Regions from separate parts of the Homo sapiens genome. Here region 2 is linked to region 1. Evidence: fine-mapped expression QTL. A gene starts in region 1. The other region holds a variant in brackets. All regions are shown on one strand. Distances are between the middles of the regions. Region 1 holds the start of PLA2G4C (phospholipase A2 group IVC). Region 2 overlaps ZSWIM9 (zinc finger SWIM-type containing 9).

Region 1 (2,909 bases):
TGGAAGTGCAGGTACATGCTACCATCTCCAGCTAAATTTTTTATGTTTTGTAGAGATCAGGTCTTGTTATGTCACCCAGGCTGGTCTTGAACTCCTAGGCTCAAGAGAGCTTTCCACCTTGGCTTCCCAAAACGCTGGGATTATAGGCATGAGTCATCGCACTCGGCCAGACATAGGCTCTTAAAGGGGTGACTAAGTTAAAGTGGGGTCCTGAGGGTGGCCTGGAATTTGGTTTGATTGGTTTATTTTATTTTATTTTTTTTTGAGATGGAGTCTCGCTTTGTGCCCTAGGCTGGAGTGCAGTGGCGCAGTCTCGGCTCACTGCAAGCTCCGCCTTCCGGGCTCACGCCATTCTCCTGCCTCAGCCTCCGGAGTAGCTGGGACTACAGGCGCCCGCCACCACGCCCAGCTAATTTTTTGTATTTTTAGTTGAGACGGGGTTTCACTGTGTTAGCCAGGATGATCTCGATCTCCTGACCTCAGGATCCGCCCGCCTCGTCTTCCCAAAGGGCTGGGATTACAGGCGTGAGCCACCGCGCCCAGCCTGATTGGTTTTATAAGGAGAGATTAGGGCCTCTGCAAGAGGCTTCAGGAGAAACCAACCCTGCCAACACCTTGATCTTGGACTTCTAGCTTCCAGAAGTGTTAGAAAATAAATTCCTAGCCGGGCGCGGTGGCTCACGCCTGTAATCCCAGCACTTTGGAAGGCCGAGTGGGGTGGATCACGAGTTCAGGAGTTTGAGACCAGCCTGGCCAACATGGTGAAACCCCATCTCTACTAAAAATACAAAAATTAGCCGGGTGTGGTGGTGTGCGCCTGTAATCCCAGCTACTCGGGAGGTTGAGGCAGGAGAATCGCTTGAACCCCGGAGGCGGAGCTTGCCGTGAGCCGAGATCGCGTCACTGCACTCCAGCCTAGGCGACAGAGCGAGATGCTGTCTCAAAAAAAAATAAATAAATAAATAAAATAAAATAAAATAAAAAAGAAAAAGAAATCCTGTTATTTAATTGCACCCAATCCCTGGTACTTGGTTATGGCCGCCCCAGCGGGATGAAACAGCCCTCCCTGCCCCCACGGCTTGCCTGAGCCTGGGTCTGGGGCGTGTGCGCATGCGCGGTGGAGCTTGTGCTCCGGAATCCGGTGCGGAGGCTTGGGCTCCCTGCGCTTAGCGGTGTAGTCGCTGGACAGCTCCTTCAGCCGGAATCTCCGCGGGTGAAGACTGCGGGGATCCTCGGTGCCAAAGCTTCTGTGGTCCTCCTGCTTTCCTTTTCCCCCTGTGGGAGGAGGTCGCGGGCTGGAGGTGTTTCCTCCTGGTCCTGAGCAGGGCCAACCTGGAGGTAAAATGGCCCCTGCGCCTTTAAACAGCCCTCCTCGGCTTGTAGGCCCTGCTTGGTTGCTCCAGCTTTTTCAGCTGTTCCAGAGCTCACCCGGAGCTATTTTCATCCGTGGGATCACGTGGAGGGCTGGGACTTTCCAGGCTTCCTTAGTGATGTCACCCTTCTGTCATTAGGCACCCGAGACCAGTATTCAAAAAAAGAATGTTGTCGTTATATAACTATATTGGAGATAAGTATTCCTCAAAACAGATTAGCTAATCCTCCTATGCATCTGGCTGTCTAATAACCATCATATATAATATCATACTCAAATACCCAGAAAAAGAAATATTGAGGCCAGGCGTGGTGGCTTACGCCTGTAATCCTAGCACTTTGGGAGGCTGAGGCAGGCGGATCATGTGAAGTCAGGAGTTCGAGACCAGCCTGGCCAACATGGTGAAACACCTTCTCTACTAAAAATACAAAAATTAGCTCGGTATGGTGGCGTGTGCCTGTAATCCCAGCTACTACTCGGGAGGCTGAGGCAGGTGCTTCATCCTGGGAGGTGGAGGTTGCAGTGAGCCAGATCCTTAGGGCCAACTCTGGTTCATTTAATGTCCATTTTTAGAAAACCTGTGAGCTCCATTCACAGTGAAGGTTTGAAGCCCAGAAGTGGCCTCCCAACAGGGTACCACATTTCCCAGCACCTTTGCAGCTAGGTGTGGTCATGTGAGCGAGTTATGTGGTCATGTGACCGAGTTCCAGTCAGTGCAATCGGGCATCTGTGGGGAGCACCGCTTCCAAGAGTGGCTCCTAGAAACCTCCCATACTACCCTCCTGCCTACTCTTCCTGAAGCCCAGCACTAAGCGTCATCCCAACTCGATGGGTTTTGAATTTTTTTTTTTTTTTTTTGAGATGGAGTCTTACTCTTTGTCGCCCAGGCTGGTGTGCAGTGGTGCAATCTCGGCTCACTGCAACCTCCGTCTCCTGGGTTCAAGCGATTCTCCTACCTCAGCCTCCCGAGTAGCTGGGAACATAGGCATCTGCCACCACGCCCGGCTAATTATTTTTGTATTTTTAGTAGAGACAGGGTTTCACCATGTTGGCCAGGCTGGCTCGAACTGCTGAACTCAAGTGATCCACCTGCCTCGGCTTCCCAAAGTGCTGGGATTACAGTTGCGAGCCACCGCACCCAGCTTGAATTCTTATTTTTTAAAAATAGATATGAGGCCATAATCCTAGCACTTTGGGAGGCCAAGGCAGGAGTATCACCAATTTTAGAACAGGATTTCACCAGGGGGAAGATGGTCTCCCCTGCTCCCCCTAACGCCAGGCTCACCTCTTCAGTGCCCGCAACTCCAACCATCGCAGGATCTTTTCACTCCTAGACCTGACCATGCCACTGCCCCGCCTGCGGGATAAGGTTCTACACCTCGCAGGAGCTCATGAGGCTCTCCACAGTATAGTTAGTAGTTATAGATGCAGGGTCAAGGAGCTGACAGCATGGACCAAACCCTGGCCCACCACTTCCTAGATAGTGGACCTAGGGAAGGTAACTTACATCCCTGTGCCCCTCAGTGTCCTCACCTGT
Region 2 (2,909 bases), 73 kb after region 1:
AATTTTGATAGTGGCTGCCTCTGGGGACAGAGGGAAGGAAGATAATCTGTTAGGGCAGCGTTCACAGAAGGCCTCAACTTTTGATGTTATTGCTAAACCAGAAGCAGATACAGGACTATCTGAAATTTTTTATTTCTAAAAAAAGTTAAGGTAAATACAATAAAACATTCACTCACTTTTGACAGAACTAAGGGTGGTAGGTATAGAATTTTAGTGAACACTTACTGCTTGCCATATTCCAGACACTGTGTAGGTGCTTTACCTATATTAACTCTTTTCATGCTCATGACGATCCTATGAGGAAGGTATGATGAGTAGGACCTTCCTTGTAACCTATGAGGAAACTGAGGCATAGAGACTTGAAGTGACTTGCCCCAGGTCACACAGCTGGCATATTCTTAGGGCCCTCTACTCTTCTCTATGCCTGAAACAATTCTTAGTTTAAAAAAAAAAAAAAGGTGAGTGGAAAGGAAGAAGAGGGCAGCAGAGTGATGTGACCAGGGCGGTGGTGGTTCCTCCCACAGGCCTCCCCAGCCCGGCTGCCCCGCCTTCATCATCGTCAAGCTGAGCCCGCTGCGGGACCGCCTCGTGGTGACGGAGTGCCAGCTGACCCACTCACACCCGGCCTGCCCGCTGGAGTTCGCCTACTACTTCCGCCCGGGCCACCTGCTGGCCAACGCCTGCCTGCCGGTGCGCACCACCAACAAGATCTCCAAGCAGTTCGTGGCCCCAGCCGACGTGCGCCGCCTGCTGTCCTACTGCAAGGGCCGCGACCACGGCGTCCTGGACGCCCTGCACGTGCTCGAGGGCCTCTTCCGCACCGACCCCGAGGCCAAGGTGGGGTCTCGAGAGAGGCAGGCCGGGGGAGGGGGCGGGGGAAAGCCGCGCTGAAGACTCGTGGGTCATTCATGCCTTCATCCGCCCTCTCATCCCTTCACTCCTTTCCTCCATTCATCCGTTCATTCATTCAATAAGTACTTACCGAGGCATTGGGGATGCAGCAGCAAACCAGACCCACGTGGTCTCTGTCCGCAGAGAGCTTACCTTCTAGGGTAGTGCTGCCCAGTAGAACTTTCTTCCAGGATGGAAACGTTCTGTGATTCTGCACCCCCAGCCACAAGTGGCTACTGAGCACTTGAAATGTGTCCAGTACACTGAGGAACTGAATTAATTAATTAATTAATTAATTTTTTTGAGACGGAGTCTCACTCTGTCACCCAGGCTGGAGTGCTCTATCACCCAGGCTGGAGTGCAGTGGTGCGATCTGGGTTCACTGCAACCTCCGCCTCCCGGGTTCAAGCGATTCTCCTGTCTCAGCCTTCCGAGTACCTGGGACTACAGGGCGTGCCACCACGCCGGCTAATTTTTTTGTATTTTTAGTAGAGACGGGGTTTCACCATGTTAGCCAGGATGGTCTCGATCTCCTGACCTTGTGATCCGCCCGCCTCGGCCTCCCAAAGTGCTAGGATTACAGGCGAGAGCCACCACGCCCGGCCTGAATTTATTCTAATTAATTGAAATTTAAATAGCCACCTATGGCTATTGGCTGCCTTGCAGAGGTAACTGCCAGAACGCCCCTGCAGTTCTGGCGGGAAAAACCAACAACTGACAAACATGTCCAAATATGATGTAACATCACTAGGGGCTGGCTGGGTGCTAGCAAGAAGGGGAGCCACAGTGATGACAAATGCTATGTAAGTTTTTTTTTTTTAATCTTTTTTTTTTTTGAGACAGGATCTCACTGTCACCCAGGCTGAGTGCAGTGGTGCAGTCATGGCTCACTGCACCCTCGATGTCCCAGGCTCAAGCAATCCTCCCACCTCATTCTCCCGAGCAGCTGGGACAACAGGCGTGCACCACCAC[ACC/A]CAGCTAATTTTTTAGTTTTTGTAGAGATGTTTGGCGGGGGGGGGTCTCCCTATGTTGCCCAGGCTAGTCTTGAACTCCCAGACTGAAGCAGTCCTGCTTCGGCCTCCCAAAGTGCTGGGATTACAGGCATGAGCCACCACGCCAGGCCTACTTAAATTTTTTTTTTTTTAATTGAACTGCACAAACAGAAAATGCACAAATGATAAATACTTAGTTTGATGAATGTTCTCAAGGGGAGAACACACCTGAACCCACCATGCAGATGGAGAATTAGGAGAAGGAAGAGTGCTATGTCCTGTAATGTGATGGAGCGATAAGTTATCATCAAGGAGAAAAAGGCCGGGGCCTGGAGCGGGACAGTTCTAAGGGTGCTGTTTGAATTGGTCAGGGAAGGTCTCTTTAGCAAATGATGGTGAAGCAGAGGAGATGGAACAGAGGCAAGGGACCCTCATTCTGTCATCAGAGGGAAGAGAATTCTAGGCAGAAGGAACAGCCAGTGCAAAGGCCCAGAGGCACGAGCAAGCTTGTGTTGGAGGAACAGTGAGGATGGCTGCTGCTCCATAAGGAATCTCTGCGGCTTTAATCCAACTTCAAGTTTGGGGTGAACTTGAAGTTTAAAGAGGAAAGAAAGATGAGAAAGTAGGGGAAGAACTGGTTTCTCCTCCTGGCTGTGCCTTTGTCTCCCTTGTGTGTGGAAGAGGTCCCAAGGCAGGGTAAAGTCGAGATTCAGCTCTGGCACACTCTTCCTGTCTTCATCTCATGCCCAGTAAGAAGCCCTGATTCAAGCCACCAGCCCAAGCCCAGGCCTCTGTCCCGACATAATAATAATTTTAGCTAATGTTTATCAAGCACTTACTATATGCCAGGCACTACCCTAAGTGCTTTACATACTATAACTCATTTTCATCTCACCTGAGCCCTATGAGGAAATAGTCCACCATTCTCATCCCCATTTTACAGACAAGGAAACTGAAGCACAGAGAAGTCAAGTAACTGGCTCAAAGTCACACAGCTATTTAGTGACAGAGCTGGGCTTCGGACCC

What was found.
Region 2: its variant is fine-mapped to the expression of PLA2G4C in prefrontal cortex (BrainSeq, PIP 0.92).

What each region holds. Positions count from the first base shown.
Region 1 is chr19:48,109,404-48,112,312 of GRCh38, forward strand. It overlaps PLA2G4C (phospholipase A2 group IVC), which reads right to left and starts at 1,414. Exons shown (of 17, transcript NM_003706.3): 1 at 1,084-1,414. RefSeq lists an enhancer at 1,230-1,389.
Region 2 is chr19:48,181,931-48,184,839 of GRCh38, forward strand. It overlaps ZSWIM9 (zinc finger SWIM-type containing 9), which reads left to right. Exons shown (of 4, transcript NM_199341.4): 3 at 525-837. Among named protein-coding and RNA genes, the nearest start is that of ZSWIM9, 13 kb to the left of the region's middle. The variant ACC/A (reference allele first, on the strand shown) is at 1,864.